7 linked regions of the Homo sapiens genome follow. The protein of the gene in region 5 purifies or fractionates together with the protein of the main gene of each other region. This does not show direct contact. Each region holds a gene or a part of one and is shown on either strand. Other genes may lie near its edges.

Region 1 (2,459 bases), on a different chromosome or scaffold from region 5:
AAAAAGGCCGGGCGTGGTGGCTCACGCCTGTAATCCCAGCACTTTGGGAGGCTGAGGCAGGTGGATCACGAGGTCAGGAGATCGAGACTATCCTGGCTAACACGGTGACACCCCGCCTCTACTAAAAATCCAAAAATTTAGCCGGGCATGGTGGCGGGCACCTGTAGTCCCAGCTACTCGGGAGGCTGAGGCAGGAGAATGGCGTGAACCCGGGAGGCAGAGCTTGCAGGGAGGCGGAGCTTGCAGCGAGCCGAGATAGTGCCACTGCAGTGGGGCCTGGGCCAAAGAGTGAGACTCCATCTCAAAAAAAAAAAAAAAGAAAGAAATGTGTTGCTGGTATCAGATATCAGACCAAGAACACTTCAGTCTCTCTAAGGATGCCCTGAGCTACCTCACTGTTAAAGGACGACATCAACACAGAATGCACTAAACAGGAAATAAGCTGTAATCTAGAGAATTTCCATTATGTGTTACTTTTTGGTGACTAACATGGAATGTTGAAAAGGAAGAGCTGGAAAGCTCAGTTGTTTTCCTTGTTCCTCTGACATTGTCCAGGCAAGAGGGCATCCTGATCAGATGAGTAGATTTGGCTGAGAAAAACCCTAGAGTAAGGCAGGCACTTTGTGGAGGTGGATGATGATGGCTCATAAAAACGTTTGTTCTCAGTCCAGTTCAGGGCTCTGCCAGCAGTCTTTCAGATCTGAACTGCTTAAACAAACCCTACAGATAAATTGGCACTCTGATTTGTAATTCTGTTTGTACAAGTTTAGAGCAGCCTAGCTCGAGTCCTCAACCCCAGTCCTCTTAGAAGTGAACTGATTGCACTGGATCCCTAAACCCACAATGTTGAGGACACATGTGATGACTCCACTTGCTCAGCCAGCTGGCCTCTTGCACTTTCCCCTGCCCACCACTTGTAACTACCACTTAATTATCTTGTGTTAATTGCTTTTGTTGTGTTGGGTCTGTATTTTTGTGGTCAGTGCCTGCAGGCAGAAATGTGAAAGCATTTGGTATGTTGAAGATACTTGCTTCTTTTTTAATAAAATTAAAAGTGCAGCACGTAAGTATGATACTGTGTAGTTTTTTGACACAACCATGAGATACAATAAGCAGCTTTGACTTAGTGTCCCAAAAAGTGGTTCTTGGTCTACAGCAGGGCAAACATATATGTGGCAAGTTCTGATCACATACTTTTAGACAGAAAGAATAAAAAATTCATATTGCATGGCTTTTGTAGCCTAAGAGCACAGAATCATACACGTGTGTTAGGAGAAACATTCATTCTCACGCATATAAACTGGCTCCTGGCAGAGTAGAGCAGTAAGTGGGATCAAAGGTGAATTCACCTTATTTTCAGTTGGTAGAGTATGGAAAAATGTATCACTTATTTGAAATACCTGAATGGAAACCCAGCCTCTACTACTGTAACTTAACACTTGTTCTTCCTGAGCCTCAAATTTTCTTTCTCTGTAAGAATGGGAATTAATGCCCACCTACGGGTTGCAAGTGCTTACAGGAGCTGGGCAAGCAACGAAGGTAAGAGTTGTAGAGACTTCGGTAAACTGGAGCACATGATTCCTGGGAAGCAGGCCTAGTGTAAACAATTTATTTTTCTAGAAAAGACAGAAGTTTAGAGTATATGAAATCTAATTTTTAAGTATTGGTTGGCAACTAATTGACTATCGTCTACCATAAGGTTATATGATAATTATTAGGGCAGGAGAGTGAATGCATCTTAATATGCATGGCAGAACTGTGTGTTTCCTTCCATCTGGATTTTCATAAAGCTTTCTGATTTATCAGTAACGATCTGAAAAATGTACTGTGGCATGTAACATCTTTTATTCATTTTATTAGGCATTAGAGGAAGAATATTCTGTAGTCCTGCTTTATTCTGCCATCTTTACCTGGAAATCCATTTTTATAAAATTTTTGTAATAAAAATTCACTTGATCACTTGCCTGCTTTCTTTTAAACAGTGCCAAGCGTAATGCCCCTTGATAATTTACATATATGTGAACGTGGCTGTGATAGCTGCTGATGTTCACACATAGGCCATCTTACATGTAATGATCCATGTTTGGACTTAAACAGCTTCACACATTTATTGTACAGTTAGGTGTCACATGCTTTTACTTTTTATTTTATAATCTGTATTTCTGTGAGGTAGACATTATTGGCTCCATGTTATATACATTGATAGCCCGGAGCTAGAGATTGAACCCAGGCCATCCTCCCCACTGCCTTTCATCATCAACACAACCACCACCAACAGTATTTTAAAAGTGTTAAATATTGGCAGACGTGTCATTGTTCTGAGCACTAGGACTAGGGCTTATGCGGCTGTCTGAGGAATTCCCTGTACAAGGAAACATCATATACCAAAAAGTTACTCATGGAAGGAGTTTGGAGATGATGAGCTAAAAGTATTACACATGGACTATTGTAAAAGAAAA
Region 2 (3,500 bases), on a different chromosome or scaffold from region 5:
GGAGTGCAGTGGTGTGATCTTGGCTCACTGCAACCTCTGCCTCCTGGGTTCAAGCAATTCTCCTGTCTCAGCCTCCTGAGTAGCTGGGACTACAGGTGCACGCCACCATGCCCGGCTAATTTTTTTATTTTTAGTAGACACAGGGTTTCACTATATTGGTCAGGCTGGTATTGAACTTCTGAGCCACTGTGGCCAGCCTAAATTATTTATATTCTTCGTCACATATATTCTTTATCACAGCTATTCTGAGAGTCAGGAATTGTGATTATTTCTACTTCATTAATGAGAAATCCAAGACCCAGACAAGTGAATTGACTTGCTCAAGGCCATAGTAAATGGTAGAGCCAGTATTCAAACTCAGGTCTGTCAAAATTCACATTCTGTATCGCTGTAATTAATGATTCATTAAGAAAACTATACAGGCCAGGTGCCGTGGCTCACGCATGTAATCCTAACACTTTAGGAGGCCAAGTCAGGAGGAACACTTAAGGCCAGGAGTTCAAGACCAGCCTGGGCAATATAGGGAGAACCCATCTCTACAAAAAAATTTAAAAAATTAGGTGGATGTGGTGGCATGCAACTGTAGTCCCAGCTACTCAGGAGGCTGAGGTAAGAGGATCACTTGAGCCCAGGAGTTCAAGGCTGCAATAAGCTGTGATTGTGCCACCGCACACCAATATGGGTGACAGAACGAGACCCTGTCTCTTAAAAAAAAAACTATATATATTCGTGTTTTGAAAGAACACTGGAAGCAGAAAATATGAGACTCTAAATTAGAATATCTAAAAGGCAAGATTCTAGGTATTTTGTGAGTATGTATTTTTTAACTTGCCAAGCCTTCATCATTAGTAGCATCATAAAATATTTACTAAGAAGCCACTATGTTTTTGTTTGTTTGTTTGTTTTGTTTTGTTTTTTGAGATGGAATTTCACTCTTGTTGCCCAGGCCGGAGTGCAATGGCGCAATCTCCGCTCACTGTAACCTCTGCCTCCTGGGTTCAAGCGATTCTCCTGCCTCATCTTTCCGAGTAGCTGGGATTACAGGTGCCCGCCACCACATCCAGCTATTTTCTTGTATTTTTAGTAGAGACAGGTTTTACCATGTTGGCCAGGCGGGTCTTGAACTCCTGATCTCAGGTGATCTGCCCGCCTCAGCCTCCCAAACTGCTAGGATTACAGGCGTGAGCCACCGTGCCTGGCCAGAACCAACTATGTTAATATGGAGAAAAATGAATCTTTACCTATGTCATAGTTGACAGAAAAGTGACTGACAAATGTCACTTCCTACTTTTCAGTGACCTTTTAATGAAAATAGGAGTGGGAAAGTTGAAGAAGGCAAAAAAGATGTCTGGCTGAGAACATTCTTGGCATTGTCTAAGTATATTTCACATGCAGTCTTCAAATGAAAATCAAAATACACAACCACTGTCTACAAGGAGTTTTATACCAGACACTGCATTCTCCAAATTGGGTTTCTTAGTACACTCTTCAGAAAGAAAGTATGTATTTTGGGAGAAAAGGGTTCATGGATAAACTGGGTTGGTAAATGGTACATACAATATCATTTCCTTCAAAATTCACAATGCCTAATAACACATTAAAGGTTCTAAGGAATCCTGAGGTAAAAAGGCCTTATAAGGCCAGATGCAGTAGCTCAGGCCTCTAATCCCAGCACTTTGGGAGGCTGATGCAGGAGGATCACTTGAGCCTAGGAGTTTGAGACCAGCCTGTGCAACATAGGGAGGTCTCACTTCTATTAAAAATAAAAAGAGGCAGGCCGGGCGCGGTGGCTCACGTCTATAATCCCAGCACTTTGGGAGGCCGAGGTGGGCAGATCACGAGGTCAGGAGATCGAGACCATCCTGGCTAACACGGTGAAACCCCATCTCTAAAAAAAAAAAACGCAAAAACTAGCCGAGTGTGGTGGCGGGCACCTGTAGTCCCAGCTACTCAGGAGGCTAAGGCAGGAGAATGGCGTGAACCTGGGAGGCAGAGCTTGCAGTGAGCTGAGATCGCGCCACTGCACTCCAGCCTGGGCAACAGAGCAAGACTCCATCTCACAAAAAAATAAATAAATAATAAAAAAATAAAAAGAAGCTGAGCATGGTGCCTGACACCTGTATTCCTAGCACTTTGGGAGGCCGAGGTGGGCGGATCACTTGAGGTCAGGAGTTCAAGACCAGCCTGACCAACATGGTGAAACCCCGTCTCCACTAAAAATACAAAAATTAGCTGAGCGTGGTGGCATGCACCTGTAATCACAGCTAGTCGGGAGGCTGAGGCAGGAGAATTGCTTGAACTCAGGAGGCAGAGGTTGCAGTGAGCCAAGATTGGGCCACTGCACTCCAGTCTGGGCAACAGACTGAGACTCTGTTTCAAAAAAATTAATTAATTAATTAATTAATTTAAAATTTTTTAAAAAATAAAAAGAATTAGCCGGGCAAGGTGGTACGCATCTGTGATCCCAGCTACTCAGGAAGCTGAGATGGGAGGATGACCTGGGCCTGGGAAGTCAAGGCTGCAATGAGTTGTGATCGTGCCACTGCACTCCAGCCTGGGCAACAGAACAAGATCCTGTCTCAAAAAAAAAAAAAAAAAAGCCTTGTAATCATTTTTAAACCCATTCCCATTCCCAAACTTATTTGGGCAAGAAACCAGTTTTTTGGCGCTTTCATCCTTCTAACAAGTGCTTTTGGGGCTAAACTGTAGAATTGTAAATTCACATTTTTTAAAGATTGTCATTTTTTGCTTTTGTTGGATTCAGTGGAATATTTGGGTTACAGACTGCAATAGATCTGGATAGATAACTATTTATGGTTACTTTTATAAAGAAAGGATTCAAGAAACTAGGGACATCAGAGAAAGCTCAAGTTAAAAAGGAAAGCCCTCAGAGTTGCCTTTTGTTCTGAAAAAGGCTATGGGAATAAAGATTTCAAAAACAGGATTAATCCTAATGAATGGCAAATGACCTAGTGACCCATACACGCTTGCTAATGTCTGTCAAGTCTTGACAGGAGGCAAAGTGAGGCAAAGTGAGTCAAAAGACCGTTCAGCTCAAGAATATACTCTTTATTCTAGTTACACCCAGACCAAAGTACAGCAAAGAGAGAAGACAGGCTTGCAGACCATGAAAAAAAAATCAGCTGCCCTCTCTAATAGAATTTGTGATCTATTTCAGCATTCTTCTGGAACAGCATTTGACACACTACAAATCTATCATCATCAACACTGAAACATCTCTAGATGAGAATCTACTCAGCTAAGGAACTTGAGGCAAAGCTAGGGCTCTGAAGCCAAAACAAACACAAAAAGGTGGCTTTCGCCCTCCCATGAACCTGGGTTAGAATCCCCTCATCTTTTAGCACCCTAGAGTAAAAGCACTAGTTACGGGGCATTTATATTCTGGCAAGCACTATTATGCCAGACCTGTTTGGTCAGTGATCTGTACAAACAGGCTGGAGATTGGAAAATGACTCAGGGCACAAGAAATCTGAACGTCT
Region 3 (3,500 bases), on a different chromosome or scaffold from region 5:
GTAGAGAAGCAGGCAACCTCCTCTCATGTTTGTGGAAAGACCACTAGGTTTTGCATCAATAATATGTCATATATTAGTTCAGGACAACAAACTGGCAGCCCCGTTCCATTAAAGGATCATAATTCCTTTGAATGTACTGCCACTAGCCTTTGAGGGATGTTGAGTTGTGGTATAGCCAGGCCTGCCTAGGACTGGGGTATGTGGCCAGCAGCATCTGCAAGGATGCTCTATCACCCACCACCCTATTGCCCTGGTGACACCTCCCTAGTACTCACAGGCAGTGGACCACAGTACGTCCCTCCCTCCCGTCATACTGCTCCTGCCACTTCTCCAGTCGTCGGACCACTTTGAGCAGAGAGCGCTTGGAGGGGGGCGTGTCCCGGTAGGCAGGCCAGCCAATGTACTGGAGGTGCTGGACTATACGATAACCATCCTGTGGCTGAGAACAGAGAGGCTGTTAGGGCTGTTCTGCTGGGGATGCTTGCGTACATGCACCTTGCAGATACCCCGGGGACTGCAGCATCATGGTGGAAGACAGACCAAATGGGATCTAAGCCATGTCCTCACGGGGAGAGTCCCCATGACTACTTCTATTCCTTCGTGTACACAGATTCTCTTGCCGTGACTGCCCTGAACCCCCTTTTGTACCTGAAAAACTCCTGCTCAGCCTTCAAAACCCAATTTAAATGTCCCTTTCTTTAGGAAAGCCTTCCCTGACTCTGTTGGGCAGAGTTTTTTCTCCCTGAGGCTCATGTGCCAGAACATGTCTCACTGTCTCAGTGGACAGTGAACTCTGAGCAGGGGGGTAGGGGAGGTGCTGAGCTCCTTTCATCCTGGGCCCCAAGTAGTGACCAAAGCTGCATTAGTTAGCAACCATTTCATAGATTGCTAATCTGCCCCTCCCACCCACTACTCTGCTCAGCCAGTGAACATCCTCATGGAAGTAAGTAATCACTTTTCATCTAGGTGTTGGCAGTGCCTGGCCCAAAGCTTATGGGATCCAATCAAAGGCTGCATCAACTCATGCCAGTACAGAGACACAGTGGGGAAGAGCTAATGTCTAAGAAGTTTTGTCTACACGGCAGCAAGTGTGTCAGGAAACAGGCAGATGGCAGGTTGGATGTCGCTCGTTGCATCTCTATGTGTTGGAGTCATTGCTGAGTCTGGAGCCGGAATCAGCACAGGCATCACTTCCTCAAGGAAGAAATTATCAGGAGAGCACAACACAGACTCTTGGCTGGCTCAGCGGGATCCTCTCTCGGCAGCCTCCATCTGTCTTGGGGAGGAGGGGCTCAGCAAGCAATGGCGGCCGTGTACTTACCCGGGCCATGTTACAGATGCGGAATATTCTGTGGATGATGTCCTCGTCGATGTCTGCGGAGACGAACTCCACCTGGATGGGCCCATAGCACCCGGAGGTCTTCTCAGGCCAGTACTGCATACAGAACTGAGATAAGGAAAGAGGTCACAGAAGGAGCTCAAAGGCAGGGGGCGGGTATCAAAGTCTCATTTATCAACAAGCTTTTCTTTTCTTTTTTTCTTTTTCTTTTTTTTTTTTGAGATGGAGCATCACTCTTGTTGCCCAGCCTGGAGTGCATTGGCACGATTTTGGCTCACTGCAACCTCTGCCTCCCAGGTTCAAGTGATTCTCCTGCCTCAGCCTCCCAAGTAGCTGGGATTATAGGCACCTGCCACCATGTCTGGCTATTTTTAGTAAAGATGGGGTTTCGCCGTGTTGGCCAGGCTAGTCTTGAACTCCTGACCTCGGGTGATCCACCTGTCCCAGCCTCCCAGAGTGCTAGGATTATAGGTGTGAGCCACTGTGCCCAGCCGTCACCAAGCTTTTTTTATGGCTGGAAGGACACATTGGCCAGAAAGGTAGAGTATTATGTAGGAAATTAGACTCAGTTTCCCCTTTAGGGAGCAGCCATCCACTTTTTCTGGTGTTGAAATATCAAGGCTTTGAGCACAGAAACACTGGGCTTGCAAATCTTTGCTATGTTGATTTCAAACCATTTGTTAGGTTTGCTTAACCTGAGTTTCCTCATCTGTAAAATGGGGAGAATAATATCTACCTCTAAGCCCCGCTGTCAGGATTAGATAGAACATGCTAAAGAAAGGGCAAGTACCATCTATTTTTCTTTTCACCACGCAAATCATCACAAGCTCTTCCTCATTCCAGGAAAACCTTCATAGTGTTCATTCATGATCAGATCAGAAGTAGTGTAAAAAATATAGGGGTTTCGGGAGGCGGAGCTTGCAGTGAGCTGAGATCGCGCCACTGCACTCCAGCCTGGGTGACACAGCGAGACTCCATCTCAAAAAAAAAAAAAAAAAAAAAAAAAAAATATATATATATATGGGTTTGACCTCAGGCGGCCTTGGGTCCAAATCTGGTCTCAGGTGCTCACTAGCTGTGCAGCCCAGGCCTCAGTTTTCTCATAGGTAAAGTGGGGATAATTATGCTTACTTTGCACCAAAAGTTAATGTCACATGGTGCTGACAGATCTTGCCTATGATTCTTTCTATTTATCTGGAATTGGAAATTAGAACCTACAGCTGAGAGCAAAAGGCAGTGATTGACCTTCTGTTTAAGACAGTGGTTCTCAGTCTGAGACTGTTTTGTTTCCCAGAGGGCATCTGGGCAATGTCTGAAGACATTTTGATTGTCACACCTGCGGGTTGCTATGGGCATTTAGTGAGTAGAGGAGAGGATGCTACTCAACATCCTGCAGTGCACAGATTAGCTCCCCCCGAGAGTTATGTGGCCCCAAATATCCATAGTGCAGAGACTGAGAAAACCTAGTATAAAATCATTATAATTATTATTATTATTATTTTTGAGACGGAGTCTCACTCTGTTACCTAGGCGGGAGTGCAGTGGTGCGATCTTGGCTTGCTGCAACCTCTGCCTCCCGGGTTCAAGTGGTTCTCCTGCCTCAGCCTCCCAAGTAGTTGTGACTACAGGCATGTGCCATCACACCCGGCTATTTTATTTTTTTTATTTTTATTTTGTGTTTTTAGTAGAGACAGAGCCTCACCGTGTTAGCCAGGATGGTCTTGATCTCCTGACCTCGTGATCCACCCACCTTGGCCTCCCAAAGTGCCGGGATTACAGGTGTGAGCCACTGCACCTGGCCATAAATTATTCTTTAAGCTTCAGGGGTCATTGAGAAGAAGAGATGGAGGCTGGGTGCGGTGGCTTACGCCTGTAATCCCAGCACTTTGGGAGGCCAAGGTGGGTGGATCGTGAGGTCAGGAGTTCGAGACCAGCTTGGCCAAGATGGTGAAACCCGTCTCCACTAAAAATACAAAAATTAGCCGGGTATGGTGGTGGGCACCTGTAATCCCAGCTACTCAGGAGGCTGAGGCAGGAGAATCACTTGAACCCAGGGGGCAGAGGTTGTAGTGGGTGGAGATCACGCCACTGTACTCCAACCTGGGAAACAGAGCAAGACTCCATTTCAAAAAAAAAAAAAAAAAAAAAAATAGAAGAAGAA
Region 4 (3,500 bases), on a different chromosome or scaffold from region 5:
TGAGACCCTGTCTCTACAAAAAAAAAAAAAAAATATATATATATAGATATATAAATACATACATTGTGAGAAACAGTAAAATGATTTTTTTAAAAAGAAAATGAAAATAACTTATACTTATCATATTGCCCAAGTAAAACAAGCATTTAGAAAAAAAAAAGTATGGTATATTTAAAAATGTTAGATCTATTGTTTTATGACAGTCAGTTTAACTTACCTTATAATTCATTTATAATTTAGAAACTGAGATGTTGAATAAGAACACACTGTTCTTGTTTTAATAGTATATATAATCTGAAGAAAAATGATTCTGAAAAAACAAAGTATATTAATAACATACTAACATTCAGAGTAAGAGACATATAGCAAGATTTTATAAATTATCTTTAATCATATAAAAGGCTGTTTAAAAAGATCTAATGGCAGATTAAAAAGAGAATTATGAATATTTTAAAAACAAAGGTACCACCCAAAGAAATACATAAAATTTATCAGAGGCAAACACTGCCAAACATAAGACACCACTTAAGCAAGAATACTGTTCCCTTGAAGGGGTGAAGAAGGCTTCTATTATTAGCAGAGATAACTGCCTGAAATTCTTTCCTTAATAACACCATACTAAAAATAAAAAGGTTCATCATATTTCAAAATAAACACATTGCTTTTCATACGCATTTCAATCACTTCAATAACAGATAAAAATAAAAGCCTGATTTAAGGTTTACATTTCTCTTATATTTGTAGTTGATAAATACACTAGGTAGATTTGCTCTCATTTTTATAACATATTTAATGCTTTAAGGGTCTTGTGCCAGCCACTTACTCATTATTTCTTAAAGGATTTGAGATTAGATCTTCCTGCTAGGTCAAATTAAATTATCTGCTTGGCTTCAAAAATTATTAATACTTCCTCTACAAAATATTTTCTCTATCATTTAGGAAACCACAGGAATCTCAGAAGAATAAATGGGGTGGTATTATTATTACAAAGCAGTACCAAATGCTTTCAAGAAAGCTAACATGGACCACAAGGTAAGTGGACATTTTGGGATGTTTTTACAAAAAGAAGCAAGATAAAGCATGGTTGTGTCAGCATGAAAAAGGGAGAAAGCTCATGGAACTGAGGTAATTACCTCAATATATGACCAAACTACAAAATCCTTTCTAATTTATATGGATATGTTAAGATAAAGTTTGGTAGAAAAGCATTTTTAGCTCAGAGTGTATTATCTGAACTGAAAATATATGTATAGCCTCATTTTGGTTCTACTACAAGTGGACCAGGACTTTAAAATGACCCATTCATACTAAATGCCATCTGCTGCCCACACTTTCCCCCTTCCCAGCTTATGCCTCTTTCCTCCAAGAGTTTCTATGATGGATACCATGGGATCTGGAATACATACATACATATATATGTATGTATACAAAATATATATAATGTGTTTGTGCCTTCCAAGTGATGCACAGAAGATGGTGAAAAGTGAGCAGCTTCTAGAGAATTACAGGTTTCTGAACACATTCATTTGCAGAAATAAGACCAGAGTAAAACAAGACAGGAGGTAGTGAATTCTTCCCTCTCTCTCATCAATAAATTTCTGGTCTCAGAACCAGATCACAGATTATTCTCATAGTTCAGCTAATTGTGGGTTTAAGTACATAATGGTGTCTACATACACAAAAGTACATAAGTACTTCTGAGTGCTTTTTCATCTATGTACATTTTCTCATGTACTTCTCACAACACTAGAAGAGAACATATGGTATTATTCCCATTTTTACAGATTGAGTTTGACCACATAGCTGGTTTATGACAAAACAAAGGTTCCACACCAGGTCTTCTAAGTTCAACATACTACAGAGAGTATTTATACTACATCAGGCTGCCTTTGTGGACATACTATGAAAATAGCTACCATTTATAACATTGTTTCCTATTTAAAATACCCTTTGAAAGTCAATCAACTGGCTACACCAAATGAACAAAATCCATTCAGATATTAAGGACACAATTCAAAAATCATATAAATTATATATATATTATATATATCTATATATATCAGCAAGAGAAACCTAAATAGCACGTATTTACCTAATTGTGAGAATAATTCAACTGATTTTAATTCAATCACTAATCTAGTATTTGAGAAGAAACATAATTTCATTATTTGGAACCAATATTTAACACTTGTTTAGAATTTGCATAATTTCAAAAGTAAAATCAATTTACTGTGAATGTGTGTACATTCACTTTTATTTAACTATTACTTCCATTTCATTCTTGTTTCATTCATCTTCCATATTTGGGAAAAAGCAAATTACATGACTTAGTCATACAGGATATTGTTTTTAATATAAACATTAATAAGTATCATAAAGCACAGATAAAGTAGTCATTAAGAGCTTTCTTCAACCTAGGCAACCACAAAATAGGGGCAGATTACTACAGCTCTATCTCAATGTTGGTGTGAGAACTGAAGGCATTTCAATGGAAAGTAAGTACTTTCTAACACAGGGTGCAGAATTTACCTACAATTGCCATGCATCTCACCATCTCCACAAGTGTCATCTATCTGTATAGCATTTTATCTTTTCCAAAGCCATTTTATATACCTCAACTCATTTGATCTTCATAACTATTCCAGAAGGTAGGCAGGACAAGTATGATCATTGCCATATTACGAAGGAGGAAACAAAGGCTCAGCATCTAATGGTTTTTCCCAAAGGTGAGACAACTGGTAGTAGAAATGGAATTAATTCCAGAGCTAATACCTTCTTATACCAATGTTTTCTTCTAGAACATCAAATCATTTGTACAAGTTCTCTTTAGTCTGGTTACTAAAGGTTACTGGCAATCACTAGTCAAGATTACCTTTATAGCCTGTAATCCCAGCACTTTGGGAGGCCGAGGCAGGTGGATCACAAGGTCAAGAGAGCAAGACCATCCTGGCTAACACGGTGAAACCCTGTCTCTACCAAAAATACAGAAAATTAGCCGGGTGAGGCCGGGCGCAATAGCTCACGCCTTTACTCCCAGCACTTTGGGAAGCTGAGGCGGGCGTATTACGAGGTCAGGAGATCGAGACCATCCTGGCCAACATGGTGAAACCCCATCTCTACTACAATACAAAAAATTAGCAGGGCGTGGTGGTGCACGCCTGTAGTCCCAGCTAGTCGGGAGGCCGAGGCAGTGGAATCGCTTGAACCCAGGAGGCAGAGGTTGTAGTGAGCCGAGATCGCGCCACTGCACTCCAGACTGGTGACAGAGCAAGATTCTGTCTCCAAAAAAAAAAAAAAAAAAAAAATTAGCCAGGCGTGGTGGCAGGCGCCTGTAGTCTCAGCTACTGGGGAGGCTGAGGCAAGAGAATGGCGTGAACCCAGGAGGCGGAGCTTGCAGTGAGCTGAGATAGCACCACTGCACTCCAGCCTGGGCGACAGAGCCAGACTAGTCTCAAAAAAAAAAAAAAGATTACTTTCATATCAGTAAACACACTGAAATC
Region 5 (4,189 bases):
TAAATTTTATATTGACTCATTTTGTGCCCCGTCCTAAGCAGTACTATCTGCACATGCTGGTTATATTTTTTTAACACAGCCTAAAACAAATATAAAGCTACTGAAATAGACATATTTTTTCACGAACCATTAGAATCAAAATGCATGCTATGGACAATACATACACCGTGTTTTGGGAAACACTGCACTGCATAACAATGATAAGAATAAGATTATAGACATTTATAGCTAAGCCTAATGGAAGAGCAGGTGCCAGAGCTCATTATTTTTTCTGTTACCAAGAGAGTCCCCTACTCTTTTTTCTAAGTCACTCTGTGATGCCTTTTTTTTTTTTTGACATGGAATTTCGCACTGTCTCCCGGGCTGGAGTGCAGTGGCACGATCTCGGCTCACTGCAACCTCTGCCTCCTGGGTTCAAGTGATTCGCCTACCTCAGCCTCCAAAGTAGCTGGGATTACAGGCGCCCACCACCACGGCCGGCTAATTTTTTGTATTTTTTTTTTTAGTAGAGATGGGGTTTCACCATGTTGGTCAGGCCGGTCTCGAACTCCTGACCTTGTGATTTGCCCACCTCGACCTCCTAAAGTGCTGGGATTACAGACATGAGCCACCGTGCCCGGCCTCTGCAATGTCTTACACATACTTTGTTCACGCTTTATACTGGGTAGTCCAAGAATCCTCTGAACTATGTAGGGTGCAGCAGGCATTTCGATCCCCATTTTAGAGACAAGAAAGGTAATGTAACTCAAGGTCCTACAGCTACTAAGTGGCAGAGCTGTGATGACAATTACGTGTGCTAACAGAGAGTAGAAGCTGTCCCTCCCCCAACTGGCCTCCATAGTGCTAAGAAGGAGTCCTTTCAGGGGGCTTGCAGGGGCACCTGGCTCAGCAGGGCATCCTGCAGGGTGGGAGTGGCGGCTGCAGCACCGTGTGGATGGAGAGTGAGTACAGGTTGGGCAGAGCCGTGGCCTCACCTCCAGCATGGTGTCGAAGATGACTAGCTTGGAGCTAGTTGCCATGGCATCGTAGCAGGTGTGCTCCTGCATGAAGCGCATGTAGATCTGGGCGCCGGGTTTCCGCAGTTCGTCATCCCAGCCCAGCTTGGGAAATGGGGCCTGCGGGGACAGGCACAGGGCAGGCCTCTCTTCCAGCAGGCCTTCTAGCTCACACTCCCAGGCCTCTGTGGCTGGGAACTCCGTGGCCAGCTCCACATCATCTGTGCTGGAGCCTGCAGCTGAGGCTGTACAGTCAGAGGGGAGGCAGTCCCACCCTGTTGGTGGAGTGCCCACCCCGGCAGGATCAGCTTGAGCCAAGGGTGTGGTCTTGGGGAATGTGGCCTCCAGCCCGGTGGACTCAGCAGCTGGCCTGGACCGGGGACCTGTTTGGGGGAGGAGGGGAAGAGGACAGTAACTCCATCTTCCAAAGCACGTTCTCATCTGCTGTCGCCATTCATCTCACAGCAGCAGTGGGAAGCCTGGATGCTGTGGCCCTATTTGCAGGTGAGGGGCTGACCTGAGAGTCGCCCCAGGTAGTGGCTCTGTCCCATCTTTCTGAGTTGGCCATGCTGGCCTCTGGCACTGCAGTGCCTTGTTCTCTACTATGTAGGGAGACTGAGGCCACAAGATGAAGGTTGGGTCCAACTCTGTGTTATGGAGGGACCTGAGGTAGAGACCAGACCCAGGCTCCTCTGGGATTTCCCACTCCCCTGGCTCCCACCTCCCCAGAACTGGCCTTGGCCTCACCTTCCCCCTGACCTGGTGGCTCCCCTTCCTCCACCGACTTCTGCCTTGTCCATCTCAAGGCTTTGGCCCTCCGTTTCCCACGGATTCTTTCTGAGCTGCTGGTCACAGCTGGTGATGGCCATGAGCTGCTGTTTTCTTGCTCTAGGAAGCTCATCTCTGGAAGGGGAATGGGGCCTGTTTGGTTAATAGGGAGTAATGCATCAAAATCAATTCAAATGTTATTCATAATCTTTAGGATTTGCAAGCTTCCAATGGGCTTTTCTCCAACATATTTCTCATTTAAAACTTACAGCAGCCTTATAAAGCAGGCATTATTATCATCCCTATTTTGCTAGTGAGGGACCAGAAATTCAGAGAGGTTAAGCAATTTGCTGCAAATCACACAGCAAGTAAGTGGGAAAGTCACTTCTGAAAAGAGGAAATTGGAGGTGAGGGAAACACACCTGGGGAAAGGAGGAAGAACAATGAGGAAGAAAGACCAAAAGGAGGAAGATAAAAGCCAGGCTGGGAGGGAATTGGGGTCCCAGAAAAGTGGGGGACAAGGAGGTGGGGGAAGAGGTTAGGCCCCAGGGAGGGGGCATTCTCCCTACCTTGATGCTCAGAACCCCCAAGGCTGCTCCAGGAAGGGGTCTGTGGGGAGAAGAGTTTCTGAAGGAGTGGGGAAAGTGCCTTACATTCCCAAACCCCTTCTCCCTGAACACACGCCTACACACCCATGCACACCAATACACACGCTCAGACACACGCCATACACAGACATGCAGCCATACACAAACACACACAGAAACACACACATCCAAACACTCCCAGGCACACAGAACCACACACACTCACAATACATATGCCCAAACATGCACATGCCCATATTCACGAGAAAATCCAGACCAAACACACACCAGAAGACACACACGCCCACACACACATTCACAGCCCGTGCGCTCAATCTTCTGGCCTCAGCTGCCCCGGCTCCGGCTCCCCTGGGACCCCCATACCCTGCGCAGTGCGTGCTCCAGCCCGGGCTCCATGTGGCCAGCCCCAGACCAACTGAGAGCAAGTGTGCGACACTGTGGCTGGGCTGCACTATTCTGGGCCCGGCCCCGGGCACCCTGCCCTGCCAGGATCGGTTTCTCTCTGATTGGGTGTCAGGCAATGAGAGGGAGGGGCCCCCATTTGCTCAGCTGCTACAGCCCTGAAGGCTGGGGGTTGCTGGGAGGGAAGGGGCGCACCGGATAATCTGGGTACTTGGTCCTCAGCTGCCTCCTGGGTCACTGAGGACAAGCTAGAGGGACCCTTTTTGAGGGGATGTGGCTTGGAGCATGTGGGAACATGGTCATTGAGCAGAGTTGGGCTCTCAGAGTCCTGAGCCCCTATTCCAAGAGCCTCCCTCATCTTTATCAGGCACCAAAGAAGGGAACATGGAGGCAGATCAGCATAACTTTCTTCCTTGTTCTAATTTCAGTAGAGGGTGGTGCTGGAGTTAGAAAGGGCAAGTTGCAGCCAGCTCAGAGGCTGGAGATGAGGCAAGGGGTTTGTGGGTAGTCCAGGAGAGCAGCTAGTGTATGTCCAGATGTCCAGATTTGAGTCCCTGGAGTGTGTCCCTCTCTCAGGTGAAGGAGATGGAGTGGGTGTTTCAGGCAGGTGAAGAGCTGTGAGAATCACCTCGAAGGCGTGGGGAGCACTCAGAGCTCCCCGCAGGGGAAGAGACATCTGTTTCCACCTGTGGTTGGGAGATATGCCTGGGTGTGCAGGTGTCCCAGCCCCCAACCCTCTGTGAGTGCTGTGCCTACATCCCTGGTGCCAACAGGATCCCAGCCTGGCTCCAGTAGCTGCCACCCTCTTCCTTGGCATTCCCGGAGCCTGAGTCAATGTCCGGATTGGGAATGCTGACCCAGCTGCTCCGGCTTTCCTCTCTCTGCCCCTCCCTTTCTCTCCTCCTTCCAGCCTCTTCCATCCCAGCCCTGGCCCTGGAGTGGACACTCAACAACAGACTGGTGAATTTCTGTCTGAGTTTATTACATGTGTTTTCCATCAACCCTCAATGTTCCTACTCTGCCAATGGGGAGGGTGGAGGAGAATGGAGTTGGGAGGACAGCCTTGGCCAGGGCTGTTCCTGTGGTCCCCAGCCTTTCTCAAGGACATCTGCTCACTGGACAGTGGGAACTGGCTCAGAGGACAGAGATCAGTGTAAGAGAATTTCCTTCACACCAAGCATGTTTTTTCAAATGGACTCAAGATAGCCACCACCAGTTTGAGAGAAAGGAGAGTAGGAAGAACACCAAGTCCAGAGTGTTCAAGCATAAAAATAAGGTCTACATGAGGCCATTGGCTGTGGTTACTCAAACATGGAGCCACTCAGAAGGCTTCTAAGATTGTGAGGGTGTTGTATTGGCAAAGAAACCATAAGCCTGATCAGCAAAGCCTGGTTTGACACCCCTTCCCTTGCCTTA
Region 6 (3,500 bases), on a different chromosome or scaffold from region 5:
ATATATTCTCCAGTAGGTTCCTGAGAAAGGGTGCACAAAGGTTAAATTTTTGGAGACTTAGCCTCATGACTGTCTAAATTCTACTGGTGATCATATCCCCAAAAGACCAAATCCCTAATGCCATAATCCCAAATGTTGAAATACTGAAAGATCAAAATCTCTAAAAATCAGAATCCCTAAATTCTAAAAATCTCACACATCTGAAATCCTGAAAATCAGAATCATGAAAGATTAAAATCCCAAATGTTGAAATGCTGAAAGCCAACACCTGGGGTAGAAATTAGTGCACATTCGGTTGTATGAAAGATAGTTGCATCATTTTACTTGCATCATATTAGGTGGAACCGATTGCCTTTTTATTGTATTTATTTGGAAATTAAGTATGGTTTAAGGAGATGGTTTATGGGTGCCAAATTGACGAGGGGTGGATTCATGGATTTAATTTTAGGTGTCAACTTGACTGGATTAAGAAATACCTAGAAACTTGTTAAAGCATTATTTTGGGTTTGTCTGTGAGGAGATTAGTATGTGAGTCTGAGTGGACTAGGTGGGGAAGATCTGCCCTCAATAGCGGTGGCCACCATTAAATCTGCTGGGGGCCCAGAGAAAACAAATTGTTGCCTTTCTGAGAGCTGGAACGGACTTTTCTTCTGCTGAATTGAACATCAGAACTCCAGGCTTGTTGGCATTTGGACTCTAGGACATACACCAGCAGCCCCCTGGGTCCTGGGCTTTCAGCCTCAGACTGAGACCTGGTTTGGCTTGGTTCTGAGGTCTTTGGACTGAGCCAAGCTACCAGCATGCCAGGGTCTCCAGCTTGAAAATGACCTGTCCTGGAACTTATCAGCCACTATAATCGCATGAGCCAATTCCCCTAATAAATCGTCTCTCATATATCTATGTATATATATATCTTATTGGTTATGTCTCTCAAGAATGCTGTCTGTCGAGAATTATGTCTGTCGAGAATGCTGACTAATACGGATTTGGTATTGAGAAAGCCAAATATCATTCCTTCTTACTGTATTCCTTACAGCACAGTGGAAGAGACCTGTGAAATTGTTCCCTTGCAAAAAGGCTGTGATAAATTAAGTATACCAGGCTACTTAATGCTGAAAGAGAAAAGTTTAAAAGCTAATTATTATTGGTGTTGTGAAGACAGAAAATCACTTAATTGCAATGGCCAAGCAATAACCAGATTTCTAAATGGTCAGCATATACTTACAAAATATTTAGACCACAACCGCTCTAGTCTAAACACAAGTGAATGTTTTGAAGATCATAGAAGTGAATATGCAGGTGAAAAATATAAGAAAGCTCCCCTGCCAAATTATTCAATCAGGTATGACTTCTGCCCTTTCACACATAGTGCCAATTTGCTATGCTATGTATTTTATCTTTGCATCATTTCTAATACTGCAGGTATAAATTCTGTAAAGGCTTTTAGAGAATTCTAATTCATTTTATGCACTTTTTTTTTGCATATTTGACTCCATGAAAGTGCATTATCACAATGTGACGTAATGTGTAAGCATTGTGCATGTACATAAAAATGTTGAAACTTGCTCAGTAAATGAAGAGATGTCCGTTTTGTTCATCTGTATTTGTGAAAGATAAAATTTCTCAAGATCTTGGCTCTTTGGGTGACTCTATTGCAGTTTTTGTGCAAACGGTAGTGACCCATTGCAGTTTTTGATCGATCTTGTCAGAAGATTCAGGTTGTCTGGTATTTCAGATGACCGCAGTTATGAATCTGGGTGCACCTGATTACCAACCATAGTGATACGTGTTTATCCATTTTGCTTTTTAATCTATTTCTTCATGAATACATTTTCTCTGTTCCTATTATACCCATGCAATGGTTGTTAGTATACCTGAGTATTTATGCTTGCAAAAATATGTTATTAGTGCCTATTTTATTGTGTAAAGGGGCCTATGAACTGTTCCGTTGTGTTTTTATGTTTCTCAAATAAATCTTTTAAAAATGGAAATAAGTGTCTTTTAGAGAACTTTTTACAAATTATTTTTCCAGAATTCAATTTTTTGGATTTTGTTCTTTTGGGATTGTGATTTTTGGAATTTTAGATTTTAGGGATTTTGATCTTTTGGGATTTCAACATTTGGGATTATGGCATTTGGGATTGTGTCTTTTGGGATTATGTCCTAAACCCAAATTCTGTCACCACCGACTGTCTAGTGATAACATTTAAAATGGAAAGATAAAATGACTTGATTTTTTTTTTCCCTTTATTTTTAACTGCATTTAAAAAAATAGAGGCTGGGCATGGTGGCTCACACCTATAATCCTAGCACTTTGGGAAGTTGAGGCTGGTGGATTGCTTGAACTGAGGAGTTTGAGACCATCCTGGTCAATATGGTAAAACATCATTTCTACAGAAAAATACAAAAAAATTATCTGGGTGTGGTGGGGCCTGCCTGTAGTCCCAGCTACTTGGGAGGCTGAGATGGGAGGATCACCTGATCACCTGAGCCTGGGGAGGTTAACGCTGCAGTGAGCTCTGATTGTGACACGGCACTCCACCCTGGGTGATAGAGTGACACCCTGTCTCAAAAAAAAAAAAAAAAAAAAAAAAATTAAAAAACAGGAAAAAAAATTTAAAACACAGAGAAACCAAAAAAACTAGAAACCACATGCACATGAACCAGAATTTCAAAGGTATAAGAGGTTATGGATGGGGAAATGTATCTATGACATGAGAGAGTCTTTTGGGATGATGGAACTGTTCTGTATCTGACTATATAATGCTGGTTACACCAATTTCTATATGTTTTAATATCCATATAAATGATACTAAAAGAAAAATTTTAGTCTGTGTGTATGATAGGTTAAAAGGTGAAAAATTAAAAGAATTTAAAAATACGAAAAGGTATACAGCAAAAAAGTCTCCTTCCCCTCTTCCTTTAGTCTTCTAGCTTTCTCTTCTGGAAGAAACCACTGTTACCAATTTCTTATGTATTCTCCTATGTAATCACTCTTAAACATCTGAACATTTGGGATGAATCTGGCAAAAGAGAAAATAACTTATATTTGCTTAGCTATTTTCTGAGGATGCTAGATGACTACTCTTATAATATGTCTAAATATATTATTATTTTTATTTTGTTGAGGCAGAGTCTCAATCATCACCCCAGACTGGAGTGCAGTGGTGCAATCTGGGCTCACTGCAACCTCTGCCTCCCAGGTTCAAGTGATTCTCCTGCTTCACCTCCCAAGTAGCTGGGATTACAGGCATGTGCCACCACTGCACCCAGCTAATTTTTGTATTTGTTTGTTTGTTTGAGACAGAGTTTTGCTCTTGTTGCCCAAGCTGGAGTGCAGTGGTGTGATCTCGGCTCACTGCAACCTCCGCCTCCTGGGTTCAAGCGATTCTCCTGCCTCAGCCTCCCGAGTAGCTGGGATTACAGCTGTGTACCAGCACGCCTCGCCAATTTTTTGTATTTTTAGTAGAAACGGGGTTTCACCATGTTAGCCGGGCTGG
Region 7 (3,500 bases), about 190 Mb from region 5:
TTTTTTCCCGGGATCCTTTCCACCAGTCACAGGGCCTACTCCAGGGTCCACAGAGAACAAGCCCTCACTCAGCCCTAATGCAATCCAGGAGTCACAAGGTGCCGAGTGAGGAAGCGTGGGTGCTCCTCTCTGCTGCTGGCAATCTCTCAATATGGGGGCTTTCACTTCCTAAATTTTACTACTTGAATTTAGTATTGGTCCTTTTGAAAATTTTCTACCTATCTTGACTGCCTTAAGGTTAACAAAATGTGGGGCCTGGCTTGGCTATGCTAAGTGGTAAATGGTAGAGACAGGGTGGAGATGGCGGACTGAGAGAGGGGCTGGGGAAATCCTGGACAGCGTGGCCCACCCACCAGGGGGCACCCTCATCGTGTGGCTCCACCAGGGGGCACCCTCATCGTGTGGCTCCACCAGGGGGCACCCTCATCGTGTGACTCCACCAGGGGGCCAGGGCAGCCCTCTCCATTCCCTCTGAATAAAGGGCACCTGCCCCTCAGCTGCTTCTAACCTATTCCCCACTGCCTCCTCTCTTCCTGGAAGCCTGCCATACAAAGAAAGTTCCCAGGTGCTCAGATTTTGGTATCAGCGATTGCCACCTTATGTATGATGAAATGGGACAGCCCCAGCTCTTACCCATCCTGGTCTTCCTCCCGTTCCTGGCTGAGGCTCAAGGAAGAAAAATACCCTTCAGAGATGGCCTCTTTGGCACTTGGATTATTTCCCTCCTGATAGCACAGCGGTTCTCTTTCTAGAAAGGATGACCCTTTGTTTCTGCAGGAAGGAACCAGAAAGGAAGGGATTCTCTTAACTCTCAACTCAACTGTAGCACTTAATATTTTTATTTAAATTTGAAGTTGATGAGTTCTATGTGAATTTGTGTATTTTTATGAAAATAAACGTATTTACTTTTTTTGTGTGAAAATAAACCCAAATAAATAGTATTGCCTTGCTCTAGTCATAGTTTCAGCTGTAATCTCTGTGCTGCTTAATCAAACAGCTTTGGGTCCTTTGGAGTGAATGATCCCTCATAGAGTTGTCCAGTTTGCCCTCCCTGAGAAGGTCTAACTCTGCCAAGGACAAATATGCCTTCTCCACCCCTGCTGCCAGAATTGGGATGCTTCCCTTATTCATGGAAGAGAATCCAGTCTTCCTCTTTCTTCTAGAGTGAGCCTAGACTTAAGCCTCTAGTCTAAAATACAGGAACCCACTACTCCAGAAATGCAATATCCTCCTTCACACGTGGGTCTCGCTTTGCTAGAAGATGTATTTGAGAACAAAATCTCTCCTTTTATATCATTTATCAAAATTAAATAGAATTAAGATGCTGATTATTGTAAAATCTTACCCAAACAGGTCTATTTGAGACTCTGGTAATTAGGGATTGCAGAAGAACTTACTCCTTTGGACCCTAATATGCAAGAGTGAGTCTCAATTCTCTTTTCAATCAATCATTTTGTCTTTTAAGGCCTTCAGCTACCAAGGGAATAGGGCTTAGTTTGGACACTTCCTTTTTCCCCTCACTTGTGGCTCCTATTCAAGAAACAACCCAGCAAATGGTTAAACCACACCTCAAGGACAATGAGCCCATGTTGGCCAACGCCCTCCCCAGCTGTCATCTGTTTCTACGGTACATCACTAAGGTCCTCAGGAGACAATTAGTTGTTCTCTCTGCTGGTCATACCAGCATCTCTAAAAGCCCTCCAGCTTCTGCCACACTGTATTTATTCAACAAATTCTGAACCTGTTCAGGAAAAGGAAACTACTGCAGCTTACTTCGGGCACTTTTTAGGAACAGAGAATTGTAAGCCGATCTCCTAGAAAGTCATAAAAGCTCACTTTTCTTGCACCTTGCTAGGTTCCTTTTTTATTATTATTATGAACAATTTTAATAAGGTGTAATTTATATGACATAAAATTCACCCATTTTAAGTGTACAAGTCAATGGTTTTTAGTATATTTACAGAGTTGTGCAACCACCACGACAATCTTATTTTAGAACATTTTCATTAACCCCAAGGCTCCATGCTCATTAAGTCACTCTCCACTCCCATCCCCAGCCCTAAGCAACTACTATCTACCTTCTGTCTTTACAGATTTGCCTTTTCTGAACATTTTGTATAAAAAAACATACTATATGTAGCTTTTTGTTATTGGCTTCCTTCACTGAGTACAATGGTTTTGAAGTTTGTCTATGTTGCAGCATGTATCAGTATTTTTTTCCTTTTAATTGCCAAGTAATATTCCATTGTATGGATATACCACATCTTGTTTATCCATTCATCAGCTGATAGACATTTGGGTTGTTTCCACTTTTTTGGCTGTTGTGAATAATGCTGCTATGAACATCCATATCCTAGCCTTTATGTGGATATGTTTTCATTACTCCTGAGTAGAAACCTAGGAGCGGAATTTCTGGGTCACATAATAATTTAATGTTTAACATCTTGAGAAACTGCCAAGCTGCCTTCCAAAGTTGCTGCACCATTTTACATTCCCTCCAGCAATATCTGAGGGGCAGCACGACTTTTAACCAGATAGTCACAAGATACATAATTATGTAGAGAAATCTCTTAATTCTAAAACTAGTTAGCTGAGATGATTCCCCACATTATATACATAGTATTTGATAGTATGTACCATTCTCTGTTTACAACAACATCTTTCACTCTAGGTACAACATTGTAACAGCTACTACCCACCCAAACCAGTCCCAAACTCCATTTATACTACTCCAATTCAATTTTAAATCTCCTAACCTTTTAGCTTTAGTACAAGTTGTTAACAATTTTTTTTCCATTTCTGTGTTTGTTATTTCTGTATTAGCTACTTGTTTTGTTGTTGCTGTTTGGTTTTTTTGTTTGTTTGTTTTTGAGACAGAGTCTTGCTCTGTCGCCCAAGCTGGAGTGCAGTGGCACAATCTTGGCTCACTACAACTTCTGCCTCCCGGGTTCAAACAATTCTCCTGCCTCAGCCTTCCAGATAGCTGGGATTATAGTTGCCCACCACCACGCCTGGCTAATTTTTATATTTTTAGTAGAGACAGGGTTTCACCATGTTGACCAGGCTGGTCTCAAACTCCTGACCTCAGGTGATCTGCCCGCCTCGGCCTCCCAAAGTGCTGGGATTACAGGCGGGAGCCACCGCACCCAGCCTACTTGTTCTTTAAGACCAGAAAAGCCTGGGAAGTGTTGCCACCTCACCAGACACAGTGGTAGGAGATGCCCGGTGTCCTGCCACAATGGAGCTTTGTGTGTGCCTCAGCACCGTCTCAGCAACATGAAAGGATGGCAGGGGATGGCAGCACAGCCTAGCATCTTAGCAAAAGAAGAGCAAAGCTATGGAAGAACAGACTTACTTGTAAATAACTGTTTTTTCTTCTTCCTGGGATTCCAAAAGATAAGGAGCTCTTGCCAAAGGTTTCAAATCAAAACTACAGTCATTAAAATTCACTTTCACCTTTAACCTTTAACAAGATAACAAGTGTGAGAAGGTTTTTTTGT

The links.
Region 1: the proteins of PRKAG3 (region 5) and DGKE purify together in Homo sapiens (affinity purification with mass spectrometry; one large-scale study listed by BioGRID and IntAct). This does not show direct contact.
Region 2: the proteins of PRKAG3 (region 5) and ZNF436 purify together in Homo sapiens (affinity purification with mass spectrometry, with the first as the bait; one large-scale study listed by BioGRID). This does not show direct contact.
Region 3: the proteins of PRKAG3 (region 5) and PTPRT purify together in Homo sapiens (affinity purification with mass spectrometry, with the first as the bait; one large-scale study listed by BioGRID). This does not show direct contact.
Region 4: the proteins of PRKAG3 (region 5) and PRKAA2 purify together in Homo sapiens (affinity purification with mass spectrometry; 4 studies listed by BioGRID and IntAct, with this or other methods). This does not show direct contact.
Region 6: the proteins of PRKAG3 (region 5) and PRKAA1 purify together in Homo sapiens (affinity purification with mass spectrometry; 4 studies listed by BioGRID and IntAct, with this or other methods). This does not show direct contact.
Region 7: the proteins of PRKAG3 (region 5) and FAM228B purify together in Homo sapiens (affinity purification with mass spectrometry, with the first as the bait; one large-scale study listed by BioGRID). This does not show direct contact.

What each region holds. Positions count from the first base shown.
Region 1 is NC_000017.11:56,867,609-56,870,067, forward strand, and holds the end of DGKE (diacylglycerol kinase epsilon), read left to right. Parts: 3' UTR 1-1,959; downstream 1,960-2,459. UniProt on the Homo sapiens protein: Membrane-bound diacylglycerol kinase that converts diacylglycerol/DAG into phosphatidic acid/phosphatidate/PA and regulates the respective levels of these two bioactive lipids.
Region 2 is NC_000001.11:23,363,337-23,366,836, forward strand, and holds part of ZNF436 (zinc finger protein 436), read right to left. Parts: intron 1-3,500. UniProt on the Homo sapiens protein: May be a transcriptional repressor.
Region 3 is NC_000020.11:42,084,407-42,087,906, forward strand, and holds part of PTPRT (receptor-type tyrosine-protein phosphatase T isoform 2 precursor), read right to left. Parts: intron 1,448-3,500; coding exon 1,322-1,447; intron 440-1,321; coding exon 276-439; intron 1-275. UniProt on the Homo sapiens protein: May be involved in both signal transduction and cellular adhesion in the CNS.
Region 4 is NC_000001.11:56,651,814-56,655,313, reverse strand, and holds part of PRKAA2 (5'-AMP-activated protein kinase catalytic subunit alpha-2), read right to left. Parts: intron 1-3,500. UniProt on the Homo sapiens protein: Catalytic subunit of AMP-activated protein kinase (AMPK), an energy sensor protein kinase that plays a key role in regulating cellular energy metabolism.
Region 5 is NC_000002.12:218,829,004-218,833,192, forward strand, and holds the start of PRKAG3 (5'-AMP-activated protein kinase subunit gamma-3), read right to left. Parts: upstream 2,801-4,189; 5' UTR 2,768-2,800; coding exon 2,735-2,767; intron 2,373-2,734; coding exon 2,333-2,372; intron 1,899-2,332; coding exon 1,743-1,898; intron 1,379-1,742; coding exon 975-1,378; intron 1-974. UniProt on the Homo sapiens protein: AMP/ATP-binding subunit of AMP-activated protein kinase (AMPK), an energy sensor protein kinase that plays a key role in regulating cellular energy metabolism.
Region 6 is NC_000005.10:40,777,875-40,781,374, reverse strand, and holds part of PRKAA1 (5'-AMP-activated protein kinase catalytic subunit alpha-1), read left to right. Parts: exon of another isoform or gene 1-20; intron 21-1,036; exon of another isoform or gene 1,037-1,293; coding exon of another isoform or gene 1,294-1,342; intron 1,343-3,500. UniProt on the Homo sapiens protein: Catalytic subunit of AMP-activated protein kinase (AMPK), an energy sensor protein kinase that plays a key role in regulating cellular energy metabolism.
Region 7 is NC_000002.12:24,161,469-24,164,968, reverse strand, and holds part of FAM228B (protein FAM228B), read right to left. Parts: intron 3,464-3,500; coding exon 3,356-3,463; intron 772-3,355; coding exon 634-771; intron 1-633.